Linked DNA regions of Homo sapiens. The protein of the gene in region 1 interacts with the protein of each later gene in a pairwise test. Each region holds a gene or a part of one and is shown in the gene's direction. Other genes may lie near its edges.

Region 1 (3,963 bases):
GTGGCTTGGAGTGCCCCAGCGAGGTGGGTGGATGGAAGGGCTTTGAGGCAGAGGGAAAGAGGTCTGTGCCAGGAGACGGCAAGTCTTGTCATCTCAATGAGCCTCAGTGTCCCCATCAGCAAAGAGGGCCCGTTGTCAGCCACCCGCAGTGCTCTTTCTCTGAAAGTGCTTTGGAAGACTGGCTACCATCTGGGTGCGAGGAATCATTAGCAGTGAGGCTAAGTTTGAGGAGCCGGAGAGGAGCTGTGCGCCAAGAGGAGGGTTTTTTCTTTTCTTTTCTTTTTTTTTTTTTTTTTTTGGAATCCAGAGGCTCTTATTGTCTGCTTCCTTTCTCAGCTGAACCTCTGCCCCCGGAGCCCCCAGCAGTGCCCTCTGAGGTGGAGCTGCAGCACCTGAGGAAGGAACTAGAGAGAGTGGCAGGAGAGCTCCAGGCCCAGGTGGAGTACAATCAGCGCATAAGTCTCCTGAATGAGGGGCAAAAGGAGAGGCTTCGGGAGCAGGAGGAGAGGCTTCAGGAGCAGCAGGAGAGGCTTCCAGAGCAGGAGGAGAGGCTTCAGCAGCTGGCCGAGCCACAGAACAGCTTCAAGGAGCTGGTGCGTTGCCCCAGCTGGGGAGCCTGCCCTCCTCCCTAGCCCTCCAGGCCTTTGTTTCCCCACCTATAAAATGGGGCAGTGTAGCCCTCAAGTGAAATGTTACTCCTAAAGGCACCTGTGAGCCAGAGCCCTGCTCTGGTGGCTGTGGGAGACAGGGGATGATTTTTCTAACCTGCCTCCACCCTTCCCGGTGCCATGGGAGGCAGTCACCAAGTTCTGGGGTCTCCAGCTGCAGTGGGTGGCTGCTGATTGCTTCTCTCTGTCCAGAACAATGAGAACAAGAGCGTACTACAGTTGGAGCAGCAAGTAAAGGAGCTGCAGGAGAAGCTAGGCAAGGTGAAGGAGACGGTAACCTCCACCCCATCCAAGAAGGTCTGGGAGGTGGGTGGGCACCAGCCTCTGGGGAGGGGAGGTGCCAGTCCAGCGGTAGCTCCAGCCCGGGGGCAGGTGACCCCAGCACCCTCCAGGGCAGTCCTGTGGCTGTTTCTTGCTTCCTGCCCTCTGATTTTAGAGGTGGGTAGCCCTGGGCTCCTCCCAGGTCTGGACATCATCATTCCAGCTAGAGACATGGAGCCCCCCCAATCACAGGGGAAGAGACAGAGTGGTATAACAGTCTTCTTATGCCAGATGCGGTGGCTTACGCCTATAGTGCCAACACTTTGGGAGGCTGAGGCAGGAGAATCACTTGAGGTTTGGAGTTTGAGATCAGCCTGGCCAACATGGTAAAACCTCATCTCTACTAAAATTACAAAAACAAAAAACAAAAAAAGAAAGAAAAATTAGTGGGGCATGGTGGTGGCGCATGCCTGTAATCCCACCTACTCAGGAGGCTGAGGCACGAGAATTGCTTGAGCCCAGGAGGTGGAGGTTGCAGTGAGCTGAGATTGCACCACTGCACTCCTGCCTGGGCCACAGAGTGACACTCTGTCTCAAAACAAAACAAAAAGACTCCTTAGATTAAAACTGGATTCCAGCCTCAGTTCCACTGGTCACCATTCAAGTACTTCGCATCTCTAAGTCTCTGTTTCTTTAACTTCAAAAGGAAGTTAGCATTTTCCTTACAGAGGTGCTGAGGATTAAATGAGATAATACATGGGAAGCATTAGGCCTGTAGCACATTTAGCAGATGGTGGTTGGCTCCCATACTTTTCTACCATTCTGTGGCCTACAGTTGAAATGGTGGGAAGAGGACATGAGATTTGAGGCTGGGGAAGGAGGCATGGGGTTCTAGGAAAGCAAGGCAGTCACTTAGGCCTGAAGTAAGGGGCCAGGGGCCTGGGCAGGCGACAGAGCCCCACAGTGCCCTCGCTACCCTATTAATGGGCCCAGAATCTGCAAACCAGCCACCACGTGCCCTCACACCCAGGGTCTTCCTGCAGGTGGAGCTGAAGAGCCAAGAGGCTCAGAGTCTGCAGCAGCAGCCAGACCATTACCTGGGTCACCTGCAGCAGTACGTGGCCACCTATCAGCAGCAGGTGGCCGCCTATCAGCAGCTGACCTGTGAGAAGGAGGCGCTGTACAGGCAGTGACTGCAGCAGACCCAGCTAATGAACCAGTTGCAGCAGCAGGAAGCTTGGGGCAAAGCGGTGGCCGAGATGGCCTGCCAAAAGTTGCAGGAGACCCAGGGGAGGGAGCTGCCGAGGATGGGGCTGTGAGGGGGACGACCTGGCAAACTCTGTGCCTTCTCACTCTTTCCTGGCCCCTTAGGAGCGTCTGGAAGCTGCGAGCCAGCAGAAACAGCAGCTAACGGCCCAGTTGAGCCTCATGGCTCTCCCTGGGGAAGGTACGGGAGACCGCTCAGAGGAAGAGGAGAGAGCCCCAGGAGGAAGGGGGGACTGCTAGCAGCATAGGATTGAGGAGTTGGAAGAGACCTTTAGAACAGCTGGTCATTATACTAACCGGGTGCCTGCACTAAGTTCAGCATCAATATGGTGACCTCCTGTGAGCGGGGGGCCACCAAGTTGCCTAAGGATGGCTGAACTGGCCGAGGTCAGAAAGGGAGCAGGTCAGAACTCCCGCACCGACCAGTAGTGGGAATGTGCCTGGGCAGTATAGCAAGATCTTGGTTCTTCAAAGTAAAAATAAATAACAGCAGCTCATTCCTCTCTGGGGAGGGCCTGGCTCAGGGTTACACAATGAGGGTGGAGGCAGAGGTGGGCCCACAATACTTCCCTTGTTGAGTTGTCTGAGGACCCCTCTGGCCACCACCCCCACCCCCAGGAGATGGAGGAGGACATCTGGACAGTGAGGGGGAGGAGGCACCTCGGCCCATTCCTAGCATCCCACAGGACCTGGAGAGCAGGGAGGCCATGGTGAGCCTGACTCCACCTGAACCCATTTTGCCTCCTTCCTCTGTGGTCCCTCCAAGACCCCTTTATGCTCTTCGTTTCCCTGCCTTCTGATTTCTCTGGACCCTCACCCCTTCTGGGAGCCAGTGGTCAGACACCATTTCACCTGTGACCAACATGTGCAGTCTCTGGGGCCCCAAGGGAAGGGGCTGCGCTCCACCTCTCTGCCCCATTTGTTCTGTGTATGCCCCTGCAAGAATGCTCACATCTTGCCCTCAGGTGGCATTTTTCAAGTCCGCTGGAGCTAGTGCCCAGGAGAAGCAGGCACAGTTACAAGAGCAGGTGAAAGAGCAGAGGGTGTGCTGCCAGCGCCTGGCTCACCCGGTGGCCTCGGCCCAGAAGGAGCCAGAGGCAGCCAGAGGCCCTGGAGCCCCAGGGCCTGGGGGCGAGTCTGTGAGTGGGGAGACCCACCGGGCCCTGCAGGAAGTCACGGAGAAGCTGGCCCATGCCGGAACTCACCTCCGCCTTCTCCATGACTTGAAAATGCCACCTGAGGGCAGGTCGCTGGCGAGATGTGACCCCATTATTTTGGCTCCAGAGCGGCTTTATGGACCACCTGGAGGAGAAGGCAGACCTGAGTGAGCTGGTGGAGAAAGAAGAACTTGGATTCTTCCAGTACTACAGAGAGAGATGCCATCAGTGAGTGGGAGGCCAGGGCATGGCAGGGGGAGCTGCAGGGCTGTTGGAGGGGCCCCAGCGTCTGAGCCCTGTCCTCCCGCAGGAAAGTTTATCACCCTATAACAAAGCCAGGGGGCAGTGCCAAAGATGCAGCACCGGGAGGAGGACACCATCAGGCTGGCCCTGGACAGGGAGGAGATGAAGGTAGAGTGTGCAACATCTCTGCGGGGGTGGGGGTGGCTGTGACGGTGAGCGCTGGCAGCAGCGTGACAGCTGAGCACCCCTCCCTCCAGGTGAAGCTGCTGGAGCTGCAGGAGATGGTGTTGCAGCTGGTGGCGACTACAAGGGACACAGCAAATTCTTGGTGACTGCCCAGAACCCTGCTCATGAGCCCAGTCCAGGAG
Region 2 (3,963 bases), on another chromosome or scaffold:
GAACACAGGACATTGGAGGATTTGAATTCTGGCTCTGCCATGTGCTAGTTTGAGTGATCTAGAACAAGCTAGTTTACCACCTCTCTTTAAGTTTTGGTTTCCCAGTCAGTAAAATAGAAAGTGATGAAACCTAACTTGTAGGTATAAGGAAGATAAGAAATATTGTATTTGAATGCCTAGTACAGTGTCAGGGTTGAATAAAGTACTACTTCAACTTTTTCCCTAGTAATTATTGTCCTCATGACCAAACCTGCCTCCTCTCAAAGGCAGTGGCCACAACAGCACATCCAACTTTTATTTAGGAAGACATCTTTGTCTTTTTTCAGAGTGTGAGGAGCACAACAGCCTCAAGGAAATGGTCCTGATGGAGGGGCTGTGCTCTGAGCAGGGACGCCGGGGCTCAACACTGGCTAGTTCCTCTGAGAGGAAGCCCTTGGAGAACCAGCTAGGGAAGCAGGAAGAGTTCCGGGTATATGGAAAGTCAGAAAACATCTTGGTCCTACGAAAGGACATCAAAGATCTGAAGGCCCAGCTGCAGAATGCCAACAAGGTCATTCAAAACCTCAAGAGCCGGGTCCGGTCCCTCTCAGTTACAAGTGATTATTCGTCTAGTCTGGAAAGACCCCGGAAGCTGAGAGCTGTTGGCACCTTGGAGGGGTCTTCACCTCATAGTGTCCCTGATGAGGATGAGGGGTGGCTGTCTGATGGCACTGGGGCTTTCTACTCTCCAGGGCTTCAGGCCAAAAAGGACCTGGAGAGTCTCATCCAGAGAGTATCCCAGCTGGAGGCCCAGCTCCCAAAAAATGGACTAGAAGAGAAGCTGGCTGAGGAGCTGAGATCAGCCTCGTGGCCTGGGTAAGGATGGCACTGTTTGGGTACTTTCTTGATTGAAAATGTGTAAGTTCATGCTTGGCGTAGGGTAGCTCAGGCAGTTGGAAGAAAGAACATGTCTGGGTATTCACAGGGACACTGATTTAAATGGTAGATACAGGTCTGCAGAAAAGACAGGTAGGCAACCAGGAGGGCATAGGATGATGTTCCAGTATCTGGGAGATACCGGGTCTCAGGGATTTCCTCTTAGGGATATATTAGTAAAGATGGTATAGTATAGTAGTAATACTGGAATCAGACTACCTACCTCTGGTGCTTACTACCCATGCAACCTTCTTAACCTTTCTGAGCCTTTGTCCTTACCTATTAAATGAGGATGATAAGAGAACCCATCTCAAAGGGTGGATATTAGGTTTAAATGAATTAATACAACTGCTGACCAGGCGTGGTGGCTCATGCCTGTAATCCCAGCACTTTGGGAGGCCAAGGCAGGTAGAACACCTGAGGTCAGGTGTTCGAGACCAGCCTACCCAACACGGTGAAACCCCATCTCTACTAAAAATACAAAGATTAGCTGGGCATGGTGGTGCACACCTGTAATCCCAGCTATTCGGGAGGCTGAGGCAGGAGAATCGCTTGAACCTGGCAGGTGGAGGTTGCAGTGAGCCGAGATGGCACCACTGCACTCCAGCCTGGGTGACAGAGCAAGAGTCTGTCTCGGAAAAAAAAAAAAAAGAATTAATACAAGTGCTTAGAATAGTGCCTAGCATATGTTAAGCTCTCAATGCTATTTGCCATAGTTATAAGTGTTATTGATACTTAGTGTTGAAAACACAGACATTCATCTTGGTGTGTCCTGGTTATCTATTGCTAAGTAATAACCACTCTAAAACTTAGTGACTTCAAACAACACTTTATTATGCTTCATGGTTCTATGGTTTGACTGGGCTCAGCTGGGTGGTTCTCACTTAGGGTCTCTTGTTTTGGGTCCCATCAGTTGATGGTATGAGCGTTTAAATGATGGCCATCATTGCAAAATGTAGTCAGCCACAGTATCGTAACATAGAAGAAATTCAGGCATCAGGTGGTGGTTAAAACAGAAGGCATGAAAGGTTCTATCTAGACTTAGGATGAAATGATGCTAATTATTCATTGAGTAACTGCTGTGAATCTATGTGATACTGGTGCTGTAAGGGATGTAAAATGCAGAACTATGTTTATTCTCACAGACCTTATGATTTATCTAGGGACATATAATTAACACATGTATAACAGTTGAAGAACAGTGACATACTAAATTTTTTTTTGATACGGAGTCACTCTGTCATCCAGGCTGGAGTGCAGTGGTGCCGTCTTGGCTAACTACAACCTCCACCTCCTAGGTTCAAGCAATTCTCCTGCCTCAGCCTCCCGAGTAGCTGGGATTACAGGCATGTGCCACTATGCTCAGCTCATTTTTTTTGTATTTTTAGTAGAGGCAGGGTTTCACCATATTGGCGAGGCTGGTCTCAAACTCCTGACCTTGTGATCTGCCTGCCTTGGCCTCCCAAAGTGCTGGGATTACAGGCGTGAGCTACCACGCCCGGCCCGTACTAAGTTTTTTAATGCAATACTTTATCAGGGTAGAATTTACTCTTAAATACCTCCTATGGCTTATGTGCCAGAATTCAGCTTGGGGGAGTTCCTTAGAGATGTTCTCATAGAAATCTCTACAGAAGCCCCCATAACTCCATAAGTTAGCTTCCACTCTTTCCATACTTACACTTTCCTCTTCTGTCCTGCATTAGGAAATATGATTCCCTGATTCAGGATCAGGCCCGGGAACTGTCTTACCTACGGCAAAAAATACGAGAAGGGAGAGGTATTTGTTATCTTATCACCCGGCATGCAAAAGATACAGTAAAATCTTTTGAGGATCTCCTAAGGAGCAATGACATTGACTACTACCTGGGACAGAGCTTCCGGGAGCAACTCGCCCAGGGAAGCCAGCTGACAGAGAGGCTCACCAGCAAACTCAGCACCAGTAAGTTGGCCACAGGGCTTTGGAATACTCTCAGTCACCCCCACAGTTCCAGCCCCTGGTGGCCACCACATCTCCACTGCAACTTTTTATCCTAAGGTCCTGTTTCTATTTCATTTCCTGGGGCTAATACAGGATCAAGACTGCTCAGTGGGGAGCATGGAGAGGAAAACACAGGGCTGGAGATGCCATGGTTACAACTATAGAAACTTCACCACTAATGGAATGTGACCTGTGGGGCAGGGGCAGCATCTCTCTGATGCTAAGAGGGAGTAGGGGACATGAGATGGAAGGGCTTTGTTATAGGAGGAAGAGCCCTGAACCAAGAACTACAAGACTCAAGCTCTGGCCTGGATGCTGCCACCAACTCGCTAAATGCCTTATCCTTGTGGTGTCTCCATTTATGGCATGGTAATGTGCATGCAGGTACTCCACATATGGATAAAGCGCCATGCTCTTTTATACATGGTTTAGGCACTGGCTGCAGTAGTTCAAGGGCTACATTGGTTATTATTGGGGTCTTCTACTCAGAATTTCCAGCGACTATCCAAGGGAGTAAAGTAGGATCAGACTTGGGAGCCACCCAGCCCACCACCTGGTGGCAGATGCAGAGGTGGGGCAGGGCTTCTTGTCATCTCCTCAGAGACCAGTGCAGGTTCTGCATGAAAGCTGTGGTGGGGCATATGCATTGGGGAGCTAGTCTGCAGCAGGACATGGAGGCTGGAGTGTCCCGCAGGGCAGCTGGGCAAGGGCCTCATGATTAATGGAACAAAAGACATTATAAATGTTTTACCCTGATTTAGGGCAGAGGAAGTCATCATGGTGACCGGCAGGTCAGGGACAGTGGGGTCACTTCTCTAGAGACACAAGCTGAGGTATCCCAGAATAACTGTTCTGGATGCACACATGAAATGCTCACTACTCTGTCTCCAGATAGGCTCCTGCATTTGTAATGCGGGAAGTGGGACCAGCCTAATTTCTTATCGTCTCTTTCTAAATTTGGTTTACAGAGGATCATAAAAGTGAGAAAGATCAAGCTGGACTTGAGCCACTGGCCCTCAGGTAATTCAGAGGAGAATCTGGGAAAGAGATTGGGACCGAGGCCCAAAGGG
Region 3 (3,963 bases), on another chromosome or scaffold:
ACCAGATTTGTATTCCTTTATTTCATAAGGCCCTGGTATTTGACAGATTTCTAGTCTGTGTTCCCTGCTAACAGATACATTGTGTACCACTCCTTAAATAGTCCATACTTTGCTAGTTGGGGTAGTAGGTTTCGGGAAATGAGAATTCTCATTTGACTTTTTGATTCTTAATAATTTCTATTCCTGCCCTGAAGTTTGACTGGCCTTCCCTTGCTTTCATTTCAACTCGTTGGAGTGTCGCAAGGTCCCTCAGGAACTTACTATGTTTTAAATTTTAATAGCAGCAGCTCGCTACTGCATATGATGATGATACCACTTCACTATTACGAGACTGTTATTTGTTGGAAGAAAAGGAACGTCTCAAAGAAGAATGGTCCCTTTTTAAAGAGCAGAAAAAGAATTTTGAGAGGGAGAGACGAAGCTTTACAGAAGCCGCTATTCGCCTGGGATTGGAGGTATTTTAAACAATTGTAGTGCTTTTGAAAATACTGGGGGTGGGTGGGCCTCAGTAGAATGCTTCTAAGGTCTCCTTTTTTTCTTGCTATTTACTTATTTTCTAAAATATTTACTGGTGATCTCACAAATAATTTGAAATGAGAGGGAGGCTGAGCATATAGAATGGGATCATTTCCCCTTACCAGATTTGAGAATTGAACTTAAGAAAAAAAAACGCTATAAGCATTTATTACTGCTTTCAGATTGGCTTTCTCCTGCTAAGTGTTTTACACAAGAAATCTCTTTTGGGTATCCATCATTCATCCACGGTCAGTAGGTGTGGTGTCAGAAGACAGTGCAACCAAGACTATATTTGCTGTTTAAAAAGGAAGTATAATAAAAAATTAAGTTCTCTTCTCCCCAGTCCATCATTGTTATATATACGCTCTACAGCTTGCTTTTTTTACTTAGCAATGTGTCATCTACATATTCCCCCTTCAAAAATTGTAGCAGTAATGTCTGAATAAGGTTAAAAAAAAAAAATCAACAAAACTCATTAAAAAAAGCTACAAAGTAAGAAAGTATCCTCCTTTCTCATCCTCAGTTTCATTCCTTAGAGGTAACTGCTGTTAAAAAGTATCTGTTGGAAATTCTTCTAGGAAGTACTATTTTAACTTTTAATGTATTTCAAGTTTTCTTGTTTATCAGTTCATTGATTCCCTGCTATGAAAGATAAGGAATTCTGTGTCCTTATTGTACCTCCTACCTACACCCTTCCTCATTCACATCTCATGTCTTCATAATATTGTTCCTCTTGTTCGTCTGCTTGCCTTTTTTTTGCTTTAAGGAAATAATAAAAAGCTTCCATTTCATGTTTGTTCAACTTCAGTCAGTATCAGTTCATCCCTGCAGTGAAAGCTGAGGACTTTCTTGTTGTTACTCTTGTTCTACCTCTCTTGCTGTACTACTTTGCAATTTTTGTGATATTATTTTTCATTGTTATCACATTCATAGTTTGTCCTCTAATACAATCCAGGTATAAGTACTTTGTCTAAACTTGAGACTTAAAAGTTGGAAAACCAGGAAAGAAAATTGATAATACTACAATTATGTAAATGTTATTCTATAACCAAATATGTTTGGACACAGAAAATATTCTGTATTATTAAGACTTTGCCACCCAGAGAGATATATCACTATCTAGTGAATTCTTTTTCTCTGTAGCTTCCTTTGTGATTTCCTGAATCAGATTTCAGCTGCCATGTTGCTCATATCTCATGTTACTGTCTTTCTTGGGTTTCTGTTCAATTCGCTATATTAGTAATTGAGTAATTACTAATTCTTGAGTAATTTTTTTTTTATAAATAGTGCATGAGCTGTAAACATTCTGAATTCTGGAATAGTCAAAAATATATTCATACTTGATTGGTTTGGCTGTGTATAGAATTTAGATTCCAGTTTTTTTTCCTTCAAAACTTTGAATTATTCCATTTCTCCTAGTGTTTAGTTTTACTGATGAGAAGCCTGATTGTAATATACCTGTGTTACTTTGTAGATAACTGTGTTTTGTTTTCTATCTCCCTCTGTGGAAGCTTTGGTATTTTCTTAAAGTTTGGAAATTTTACCAGGATACTTCTAGAGAGTTCCTTTCATCCTAAAGATTCTGTATTTCTTTAATTTAGGGAAATTTTCTTCTTTATTTTTTCCTTCTTTGACTTCTCTGTGTTCTGGAACTTTTGTTAGACACACATTTGGCCTTCTGAATATATATCTACAGGTTGACTTTTGTTCTCAATTCTGGGATATTCTCTTACCTTTATCTTAGAGATCACGAAACTGGCCTTTCAGGGTCAGTTTTATTATTTGCTTTAGCCACTGAGTCTTTGCTTCAGAATTTATCTTTAAATTTTTCTAATGTCCTTAATTTTTGCTTTTCTTTATATAGCATGATGGTATTTTACAGATGTTTATTAATCTGATAATATTTGTTACATTTTTAAAAAAGATTTCTTTCATCTGTTGAATTATCTCTTATCCATGGTCAGTTTTCTATTTATCTTGACCTTTTTTCTATATTAGTTTTCTCAATGTTTGGTGATGCGTGATTCTGTATCAATATTTATGAATGAAAGACTGTGTGTTGCTTGTTTTCAGTAGCTGACGTGGATTTCCTCAGTTCACAGTGTGAACGTCTGTTTCATCAGTAGCTATCTTCAGGGAACAACACTTGACCAGCATTGTCTCCTACCTGTTTCCAAGCCCTTATTCCCCACATTACTCCAAGAGAGTAATTACTCTTGCTACTTTGCATATTGCTCCCAGTTGCCAGGTGCCTTTCCCTGCAAGAGAATTTTTCTCCGTCTGGTCACTGGGACAGTGGGCATAGTGAGGGATGGGAGGGAGGCATGCAAGACCTGAGGGCTGATGGAGAATTTAGTTTAGGATTCATCAGCTATTCAGAAGGGGGAGGTTTGACATAATTTGCCTATGCCCTCTTGTGGTTTAGTGGTGGTGGCTACCAGTACTGGTAGATGGCTAGAGGATGAGAGAAATGCTTGATGAAGTCATAGGTCCTGTTTTTCAAGTGACTAATTTACAATATAGATTATTTTTCTTTTGTTTGTAACTTTATAATGTTTTGTATGTTCAAAAGTTATGCTAATATTCTGTTCCATTTTTTGCATTGTTTATTTGAACTTAAAATTGATATGAAGACAGTGATGGTTGGTTTATTAGGTGAAACAGATGAATTTCTATTTTTTAAACATAATTTTTTCGTAAGTGAAATTTTTCTTAGTTTTTTTGTTTTTGTTTTTTTTTGAGATGGAGTCTCACTCTGTTGCCCAGGCTAGAGTGCAGTGGCGTGATCTTGGCTCACTGCAGGCTCTGCCTCCTGGGTTCATGCCATTCTCCTGCCTCAGCCTCCTGAGTAGCTGGGACTACAGGCACCCGCCACCACACCCGGCTAATTTTTTTTGTTTTGTATTTTTAGTAGAGACGGGGTTTCACCATGTTAGCCAGGATGGTCTCGATCTCCTGACCTCGTGATCCACCCGCCTTGGCCTCCCGAAGTGCTGGGATTACAGGCGTGAGCCACCGTGCCCGGCCGTGTTTTGCTTTTTGAGATGGAGCCTTGCTTTGTTGCCCAGGCAGGAGTGCAGGGGTGCGATCTCAGCTCACTGCAACCCCTGCCTCCTGGGTTCATGTGATTCTCCTGCCTCAGCCTCCTGAGTAGCTGGGACTACAGGCGCACGCCACCATGCCCGGCTAAATTTTGTATTTTTAGTAGAGATGGGGTTTCACCATGTTGGCCAGACTGGTCTCAAACTCCTGACCTTGTGATCCGCCCACCTTGTCCTCCCAAAGTGCTGGGATTACAGGCATGAGCCACTGCGCCCGGCTTTTTTTTTTTTTTTTTTTTTTTTTTTGGAGATACGGTCTTGCCGTGTCACCTAGGCTAGAGTGCAGTGGTGCTATCTCGGCTCACTTCAGCGTCAACTTCCCAGCCTCTAGCCATCCTCCCTCCTC
Region 4 (3,963 bases), on another chromosome or scaffold:
TTTTAATTTTTTTTTTTTTTTTTTTTTTGAGACAGAGTTTCACTCTGTCACCCAGGCTGGAGTGCAGTGGCAGGATCATAGCACACTATAACCTGCCTCTCCAGTTCAAGCAATTCTCGTGCCTCGGCCACTCGAGTAGCTGGGATTATAGGCATGCACCACCATGCACAGCCAATTTTTGTATTTTTGGTAGAGGTGGGGTTTTGCCATGTTGTCCTTGCCATGCTATGTAGGCTGGTCTTGAGCTCCTGGCCTCAAGTGATCTACCGGCCTTGGCCTCCCAAAGTGCTGGGATTATAAGTGTAAGCCACTGCACCCGGCCAGGCTTTCTTAGGTTTTATCTAATGTTTTTTTTCTGTGCCAGGATTCTATCTAGGAAATTACATTACATTTAATAGTCATATTTCCTAAGACTCCTCTTAGCTGTGATAGTTTTTCATACTTTGCTTATCGATGACCTTGTCAGCTTTGAGGAATACTCAGTTATTTTGTAGAATGTCTCAAATCTGATGCTTTTTCATGATTAGACTAGGGTACTGTGTTTTGGGGAGGAAGACTGCAGAGGTAAAGTTCCTTTTTCATCACATCAAATCAGGGGTGCACACTGTAAACATGATTTATTACTGTTGATGTTAATAGATGTTAACTTAATTAACTTTGAGGTAGTGTTTGTCAGGTTTCTCTATAATAAGGTTACTCTTTTTTCCCTCACTTTTCCATACTGTACTGTTTGTAAGGAAGTCACTATGCACAACCTACACTCCAGAAGTGGGAAATTATGTTCTACCTCCTTAAGGGCAAACATAAATCATTTGAAAGATCTTCTAAATGAGATATTTGCCTATTTTCCTCATTTATTTATTTAGTCTTAATTTAGTCACTTACTCAGTATTAATCCTCCTGGAAATTTCATAAATTATCTGATACCTTGCAATAAATGGTTGTGTCCTTAAAAAGAAAAAAGAATTACAAGCTCTTCAGATGCTATCCATTGGGATTTACTTCATTGGTTATAGCATTATCAGTTAAAAAAAATCACTACATATACATGCATACATATATGTAAAGTTATTCTATAGATATTGGTAAAATTCTGGTAGTATATATACTAGATTACTAACCATAAGTACCAGGATCAAAAGCAGTTTTTTCTGTGGGAACAGCCAAAGCTCCTCTGTCCTTAATAGTCAGCAAAATTATCCTAAATATTGGAAAGAATGTGAACACCTTTTGCTTGCATTGAGGAATACATCTCATTTTATAAGAATATGTGAAATGATGGTTCTTAGTTCTCAACTCACTAGAAGGTGAAAACTAGAATTCAGTAAAACTGTGAGTACACAGAGAAATGTAAACAATTTTGTAATTCTTTTATATGAAAAATATATTAAACATTTTCCTAAAGGTATGTATATCTTCTAAAGTCCCGTACATTGAATATCTGTTTAAAATGTGCTTTTAAACACTAATCTTCAGAACAAAGACATGATACAGAGATTACTGTTTAAAGCGAATTAAAATGTGCTCATAACCTTGTCTTTAGTTATATTTTTGATAACTTTGCAAATCAGGCACTAAGATTAAGAAGATATTCATTTTCAACGGAAGTAAATCTGAAGGTGAAAAATGCCCACAATAACTTTTAAAATTTCTTACAAGCTGCTGGTGATTATAACTGGTCATTAATTTTTCTCTAAGAATATTTAAAAGTTATAACTTCAATTTCATTTTGTTCTGCAACTGTGGGTTCTACCAACCGTGGGTGGAAAACACAGTATTCACTGATGCAGACCTAAGAAAATTGCATTCTTAAACATGTTTTTATTATTTAAGAAAAAAAAATCAGCTACATTAGTTCAATGCCTTTCTCCAGCCCCTGCCAATAAAACTTGGATCCCATGGAGTATCATTTGAAAAATATCAGTTTAGATATTCCTTTTATGCTTTTGAAGATTCAACACAGGTGTGTGTTCTCCCTTGAAGCCGTCTTCACTGCCTTGTAGTTATGCACCCATATTTCCCTATGTTCGGAATCGATTGGCCCCATTGTACCCAATGCAGTTAAACACTTCCATAAGTACTGTTTTGGCTTGGATCTTCCTATTTATGTTTTTTCTCTTCTATGAGTTATTTCTCACCTAAAGTAGAGACACTTTGGATCAACTCAGAGTTATCTTTGGACACGAGCATTGGTTGGTTAAGAATATATTTGTCACTTCAGGACTTAGTGACATTCAAGGATGTGGCAATAGATTTTTCCCAGGAAGAATGGCAATGGATGAACCCTGCTCAGAAGCGTTTATACAGGAGTATGATGTTGGAGAACTATCAGAGCCTGGTATCACTTGGTGAGGATCTTTTCCCTCCTGCATAATCTACCTTTAAGGAACTTTTTTGTCTATATATTATTAAATTTGCTTTTATTATATGTAGGTCAGAATGGAATTTGGGAATGGAATCTGAGAAACAGAGGATATTGAGGGACTGAAGAAAACTTGAGATTTAGAGTTAGTGAATTTGGAGAATATCAAATATTCCATGCATACACCCTTAAGGCAATTGGGAACACAAGACACAATGTGAATCTCACCAGTCTCCTCAGTTTCCTTGTTCTCTCTCTCCTACAGAATTACTATCACCACTAGACAACAACAAGGTTCACAAAGAATATATAGCTAGATTACTATAAATTCAGAATATCACTTTTAAAATCTGTATCTTTGTATTAAGTAACAAACTGAAGACACAAACTGAAAATGGCTTCAGATCACTTACTGTTAGGGAAATTCCTATGGACCTTTCTTCTAAGCACTGGGGCCACCCCATTGGCTAGATTAGCTTTCTGTTCTCCAGAAGCCCTTTTGATTATGCTTGTGGTTCATTGAGCTTCTTGAAACTAAATTTATATCTTAAACCAAATTTGGGAGATTTTTAGCCATTATTTCTTCAAATCTTTTTTTCTGTTCTTTTCTGTTTTGGACTTCAGTTACACCTATGTTAGATTGTTTGATATTGTGCCCTAGGTAACTAAGGATTGTTTCACTTTTAAAAATCTTTGTTCTGTTTTAATTTTAATTTTTCTCTCGCTCTCTTTTTTTTTTTTTTTTTGAGACAGTCTTGCTCTGTTGCCCAGGCTGGAGGGCAGTGGCGCAATCTTGGCCCACCACCTCCCAGGTTCAAGCAATTCTCCTGCCTTAGCCTCCCAAGTAGCTGGATTACAGGCACCCACCACCACACCCAGCTAATTTTTTTTTTTTTTTTTTTTTTGAAACGGAGTCTCGCTCTGTCGCCCAGGCTGGAGTGCAGTGGCACCATCTCGGCTCACTGCAAGCTCCGCCTCCTGGGTTCACGCCATTCTCCTGCCTCAGCCTCCTGAGTAGCTGGGACTACAGGTGCCTGCCACCACACCTGGCTAATTTTTTTGTATTTTTTTAGTAGAGATGGGGTTTCACCATGTTAGCCAGGATGGTCTTGATCTCCTGACCTCGTGATCTGCCCGCCTCAGCCTCCCAAAGTGCTGGGATTACAGGTGTGAGCTACTGTGCCTGACCTAATTTTTGTATTTTTAATAGAGACAGGGTTTCACTATGTTGCTCAGGTTGGTCTTGAACTCCTGACCTCAGGTGATCTGCCTACCTCAGCATCCCAAAGTGCTGGGATTACAGGCGTAAGCCACTGTGCCCAGCTCAGATTGGATAATTTCTGTTGATTCATAGTCAAATTCCCTGACTCTATCCTTACCCTCAATGTTTGGTTAGGTGCATCTAGTGAATTTTTAAGTTTCAGATGTTATATTTGTTAAATTATATAATATTTATTTGGTTCTTCTTGTAGTTTCGTTTCTGAGATATCCTGTGTGTACATTTATTTCAAGCATATTTGCCTTTATATTCTTAAGTATTGATATAATAATAGCTGTTTTTAAATCATGTGCTATTTCTTCTTCGTTATTGCAGTGTGAGC
Region 5 (3,963 bases), on another chromosome or scaffold:
GTTACATCTTTTCAGGTGAACTGATTTTTCAGGGTCAGAGGCTTCTTTGAATTTTATAGCTGTTTGTGCTCGGTTGCATTTGCTGTCTTTCAAAACCATCTTTAGTTTTAGTAAGGAAAGTCACTATAAAGGAAAAATTTTTTATTGTTACCATTCCTGGTAGATTTTCTGAAATATTAGATATTTCTTTGCTTTCATCAAGTAAAATAGGCCTATTTGATACCCATTTCAAGATCTTCCTTCTGCTGCCTGTCTTGTGGTCATTTAACTTCTCATTAAGCCCTCCACTGGAGACTGTGCCAGAAGGGAGAGAAGATGAAAAGCAAATGAATCATTTTCTAATTGTTAGTAGCTCTGGAAAATGATTCAGTAGAAGAGATTGAAACTATTCTGGAAATTCTTTGGGATTGTATTTCATTCATCTGCATCGTTTCAGAGATGTTCCTAATGGTCGTCAATTCAGAATTCAGAAGCCGATCATTATCCAGCTATTGGATAACAGGGAATTTTTCATGCTTTTTTTTTGTTTGTTTGTTTCTTGCTGTATTTAAGCATCTCCACAGAAGATATTTAGAAGCAGGTAGAGATAAAATTTAAACTAATCAATACTGTTTTTTCCCTTTGAACTCTTTAATGCACAATTTGATTTCTTTAGACAGTTTACTCATTGTTATTGGAAGTGACTAATAGTAACTTTGCTTCAATTTATTTTGATGTATCTTATACACAAGTATAGGAAGGCTTTTGGGTGGTTTTTAAGAAACATGGGCTGTAGATTCCCATAATTGCTTTCCTGAATTATTAAGCGTGAGCTTTCATTACATCTTTGTACCGGAACTTTTGCTTTTGCTGTGGAACAGATTCAGGGACATCGTCTAATTTTTTTTTTTTTTTTTTTAGATAACTGCTCAAGAAGTTACCTTGTTTTGATTTAGCAGTAAAAAAGAAAAAAAGGGTTAATAGTGGACAGACTTTTCGTTAACGGCTGCAACATTGATGTCTGCTTTTTTCCTTGTCTTTGATCTTCTGTTTCTCATTTAATCATTTGGATATTCACGGATTGGAGTTCTTTATGTCACTACAGACAGGACAGCAACCGTTATTCACACTAGTTGAATGGGTTCCTGCCTTTTTTTGGTGGGGGGGCCTCAGGAGAATTTTTACAAACCCATTATGACTGTTTAGTTAGGCTGAGTTACTGTAAAATTTGTAAATAAAACCCTACTGGATGGATAGGGTTAATAGATGGCTATAGAGAGTTTAAAGTTAAGCTTTTTCAATTTCTTGTCTCTTGGATTCTGTTCTTTCAATTTCTACCCTAGGAGGGGATTTATGGAAAAATCTAGACTAAGAGTCAGAACATGCAAGTTCTTATCTAGTTACTTCCCAGCTGTGGCGCCCTCAGCTAGTCACTTAATCTGCCTTGTTTCTCTGTTTTGCATCTTTAAGATGAGGATAGTAATCCCTGCTCGGCCTACTGGTATCAGGAATGTTGTAGGGGGAAAAAAAGTCTTTCATGCCCCTGTCTATTAAATTGTTTCTTCCTTCTAGAATCCCTTCTCAGGTTGTCCGAATTTTCTTTCAAGGATTCAACTGAATGGGCTCTTCCCAGAAGTCCTCTATTTCCCATTTGAAATCTTGCTTTTCCCCTCTCACGGGCCTCTGCTGGTCCATCTGTTATACAGCACTTTGAATTCTGTTCTGTACTTCAGTCATTGCATGTTGCCTTCCATTATAGATGGAAAGCTCCATGAGGGCAAAGATTGTCTTTTTCCTCTTTCTGTGTGTCCGCATTGCACATAGGCACCCCCTCCACTCCATAGGTGACCCACAATAATTGTTGGCTGAATGAATGATTATTGAGGCTGTCAGAATGAATACTTTGGGTGATGGGAAAATGCCAAAGATGAGCATCTTACCAGAACTTTTGGATGAGTGGCCTTTTAAATTGCTCAGTTACTAATCTGTTGTTATCAGTAACTGAATCAGATCCTGGCAAGACAAATTGGCAAAGCCCATTTCTTGGTCCTGTTTACTTCGGATACTATTTGTGAAGCAAGTCAGAGGAATGAAAGACTGTCATAACAGTCTTGAATTTGACATTTGTTCCATTTCTCACCCCATAGCATGTGGAGGCCTGTCTATATCCAACTGCTGAGTGTAAAGAATAAAAACTGACTGCCCCATAGTCTGGTCCACATTTTAGTTGTGTGCTTTGAAGGATTTGCAAGGTAGAGAAATAGATGCTTCAGGCTCTGATTTCAGCCCATGCTGTGCTATGCAAATGTTCTCTACATGCCTGAGTGACCTTTTGAGAAAGAGCCTTTGTGATCTTCTGTAGCTAGGGCTTGTTCTGGGAATTCTGTGCCAGATTCCTCTAAAAGTGGGAAAAGTGAATCTGTTAAAGGACCACGTAAAAAAGCCAGTGCTTTTCCTGGATGAATACCAATAAGTCCATGTTTCTTACCATGTCTTGCCAGAGCTTTAGAAATTTGCTCTGCAGTTTGCTTTACAGGTTGATTTGGGATTGAAGTGTGTGAGAGGGAACTGACTAAGGCAGTTCAGTAGCTGGGAAACTGTTTGTTTAAATGCTTTTGAATTGTAGATAAAAATAAATTCACATTGGCATCATTAGTATCTGAGCATTTCTCAGTGTCTTAAGGCTGGCTCTCCATGAGTGCTGGCTGATTGACTCTCATCTATATCGGTAAGGTTCTTTTTGCCCCAAATTGTGCTCTTTAACACTTCGGCATTTAAATCACTTTCTATTTGTTTTAATTGTACAAAGAGAAATACATCATTATTTAAAAGCATCATCTTTTTTTTTTATATTGTAAGATAAATACCATTCTGATGTATTTCTCTTGGAAAGGGATGCTGGTATCCTGGGAGGTTTATGATTTTTGATGTTTTTACTCAGGTGATTGGCTTGTATAGCTGAAATGCTGATGAAAAGGAGTTTTCCCTTCTCCCTTTTTCTTTTCTTTTCTTTTTTTTTTTTTTTTTGAGATGGAGTCTCGCACTGTTGCAGGGGCTGGTGTGCAGTGGCACAGTCTCGGCTCACTGCAACCTCCGCCTCTCGGGTTCAAGTGATGCTCCTGCCTCAGCCTCCTGAATAGCTAGGATTACAGGTGCCCACCACCACGCCCAGCTAATTTTTTGTATTTTTAGTAGAGATGGGGTTTCACTATGTTGGGCAGTCTGGTCTTGAACTCCTGACCTGGTGATCCTCCTGCCTCAGCCTCCCAAAGTGCTGGGATTATAGGCATGAGCCACTGCGCCCAGCCTGTCCCTTTTTCTTAAATGACCTTTTTGGTGAGGACCATTATAGGTTTGTACCAGGATAAGGTTGTAGAGTTAATCATAATATTCTCTTATATAAATTCTAAAAATTGATGTTCTAAGAAGAGAGGTAGAATTTGAATGACTGGGTTACTTCCTAGACTCTTCCTCCTTCTCTTAAGTACAGTATAGTTCTTTCTCTGAAAATCTTCAGTCTCTTAGTTCCAGATGGGTTCTCTATGGTAAGAATACAGGACATGTAGAAGGCCCTAGGGGAATGCTTTCTTCCCCAGATCTTTGCCCTGTAGTAGGTTTCAGCTGAGCAAGGACGAGTAGTTTTTCTGGTGTTTGGCCTCCTCTGTTGGGTGGAAAAAGACTTTCTTCTCTATTTTCCTAGTTATATATGCTATCATATGTCTGTTTTTCTCCTCTTGAAGTTTCCCTGAAACCTGGGCTCTTGAAGACGCATCACTGGAGCAGATGGATAATGGAGACTGGGGCTATATGGTGAGTGCTTCTTGGAGATGCATTTTGAAGGCTGGGGAATTATTTTTGTGTGTCTTTTTATCCTTATGTATTTTTAGGTATATCTTATAAGAAAAGAAAATTGTGAATTTGTGTAACCTCTCTTCCCCCTTTTACTTAGTTTAGATGTATTTTGGAGGCGTTTTTGTCTTGTGT

What was found.
Region 2: the proteins of GOLGA8F (region 1) and PDE4DIP interact in binary tests that used the Homo sapiens proteins (3 or more experiments, as listed by UniProt).
Region 3: the proteins of GOLGA8F (region 1) and SSX2IP interact in binary tests that used the Homo sapiens proteins (3 or more experiments, as listed by UniProt).
Region 4: the proteins of GOLGA8F (region 1) and ZNF471 interact in a two-hybrid assay, tested with the Homo sapiens proteins (one large-scale study listed by BioGRID).
Region 5: the proteins of GOLGA8F (region 1) and KCTD6 interact in binary tests that used the Homo sapiens proteins (3 or more experiments, as listed by UniProt).

Annotation. Positions count from the first base shown.
Region 1 is NC_000015.10:28,384,789-28,388,751, forward strand, and holds part of GOLGA8F (golgin subfamily A member 8F), read left to right. Parts: intron 1-336; coding exon 337-593; intron 594-860; coding exon 861-929; intron 930-2,300; coding exon 2,301-2,376; intron 2,377-2,813; coding exon 2,814-2,905; intron 2,906-3,479; coding exon 3,480-3,580; intron 3,581-3,662; coding exon 3,663-3,763; intron 3,764-3,852; coding exon 3,853-3,963.
Region 2 is NC_000001.11:149,004,583-149,008,545, forward strand, and holds part of PDE4DIP (myomegalin), read left to right. Parts: intron 1-326; coding exon 327-855; intron 856-2,618; coding exon 2,619-2,854; intron 2,855-3,861; coding exon 3,862-3,913; intron 3,914-3,963. UniProt on the Homo sapiens protein: Functions as an anchor sequestering components of the cAMP-dependent pathway to Golgi and/or centrosomes.
Region 3 is NC_000001.11:84,652,324-84,656,286, reverse strand, and holds part of SSX2IP (afadin- and alpha-actinin-binding protein), read left to right. Parts: intron 1-281; coding exon 282-455; intron 456-698; coding exon of another isoform or gene 699-822; intron 823-3,963. UniProt on the Homo sapiens protein: Belongs to an adhesion system, which plays a role in the organization of homotypic, interneuronal and heterotypic cell-cell adherens junctions (AJs).
Region 4 is NC_000019.10:56,514,054-56,518,016, forward strand, and holds part of ZNF471 (zinc finger protein 471), read left to right. Parts: intron 1-2,221; coding exon 2,222-2,348; intron 2,349-3,963. UniProt on the Homo sapiens protein: May be involved in transcriptional regulation.
Region 5 is NC_000003.12:58,494,994-58,498,956, forward strand, and holds part of KCTD6 (BTB/POZ domain-containing protein KCTD6), read left to right. Parts: intron 1-3,371; exon of another isoform or gene 3,372-3,719; 5' UTR 3,720-3,762; coding exon 3,763-3,789; intron 3,790-3,963. UniProt on the Homo sapiens protein: Probable substrate-specific adapter of a BCR (BTB-CUL3-RBX1) E3 ubiquitin-protein ligase complex mediating the ubiquitination and subsequent proteasomal degradation of target proteins.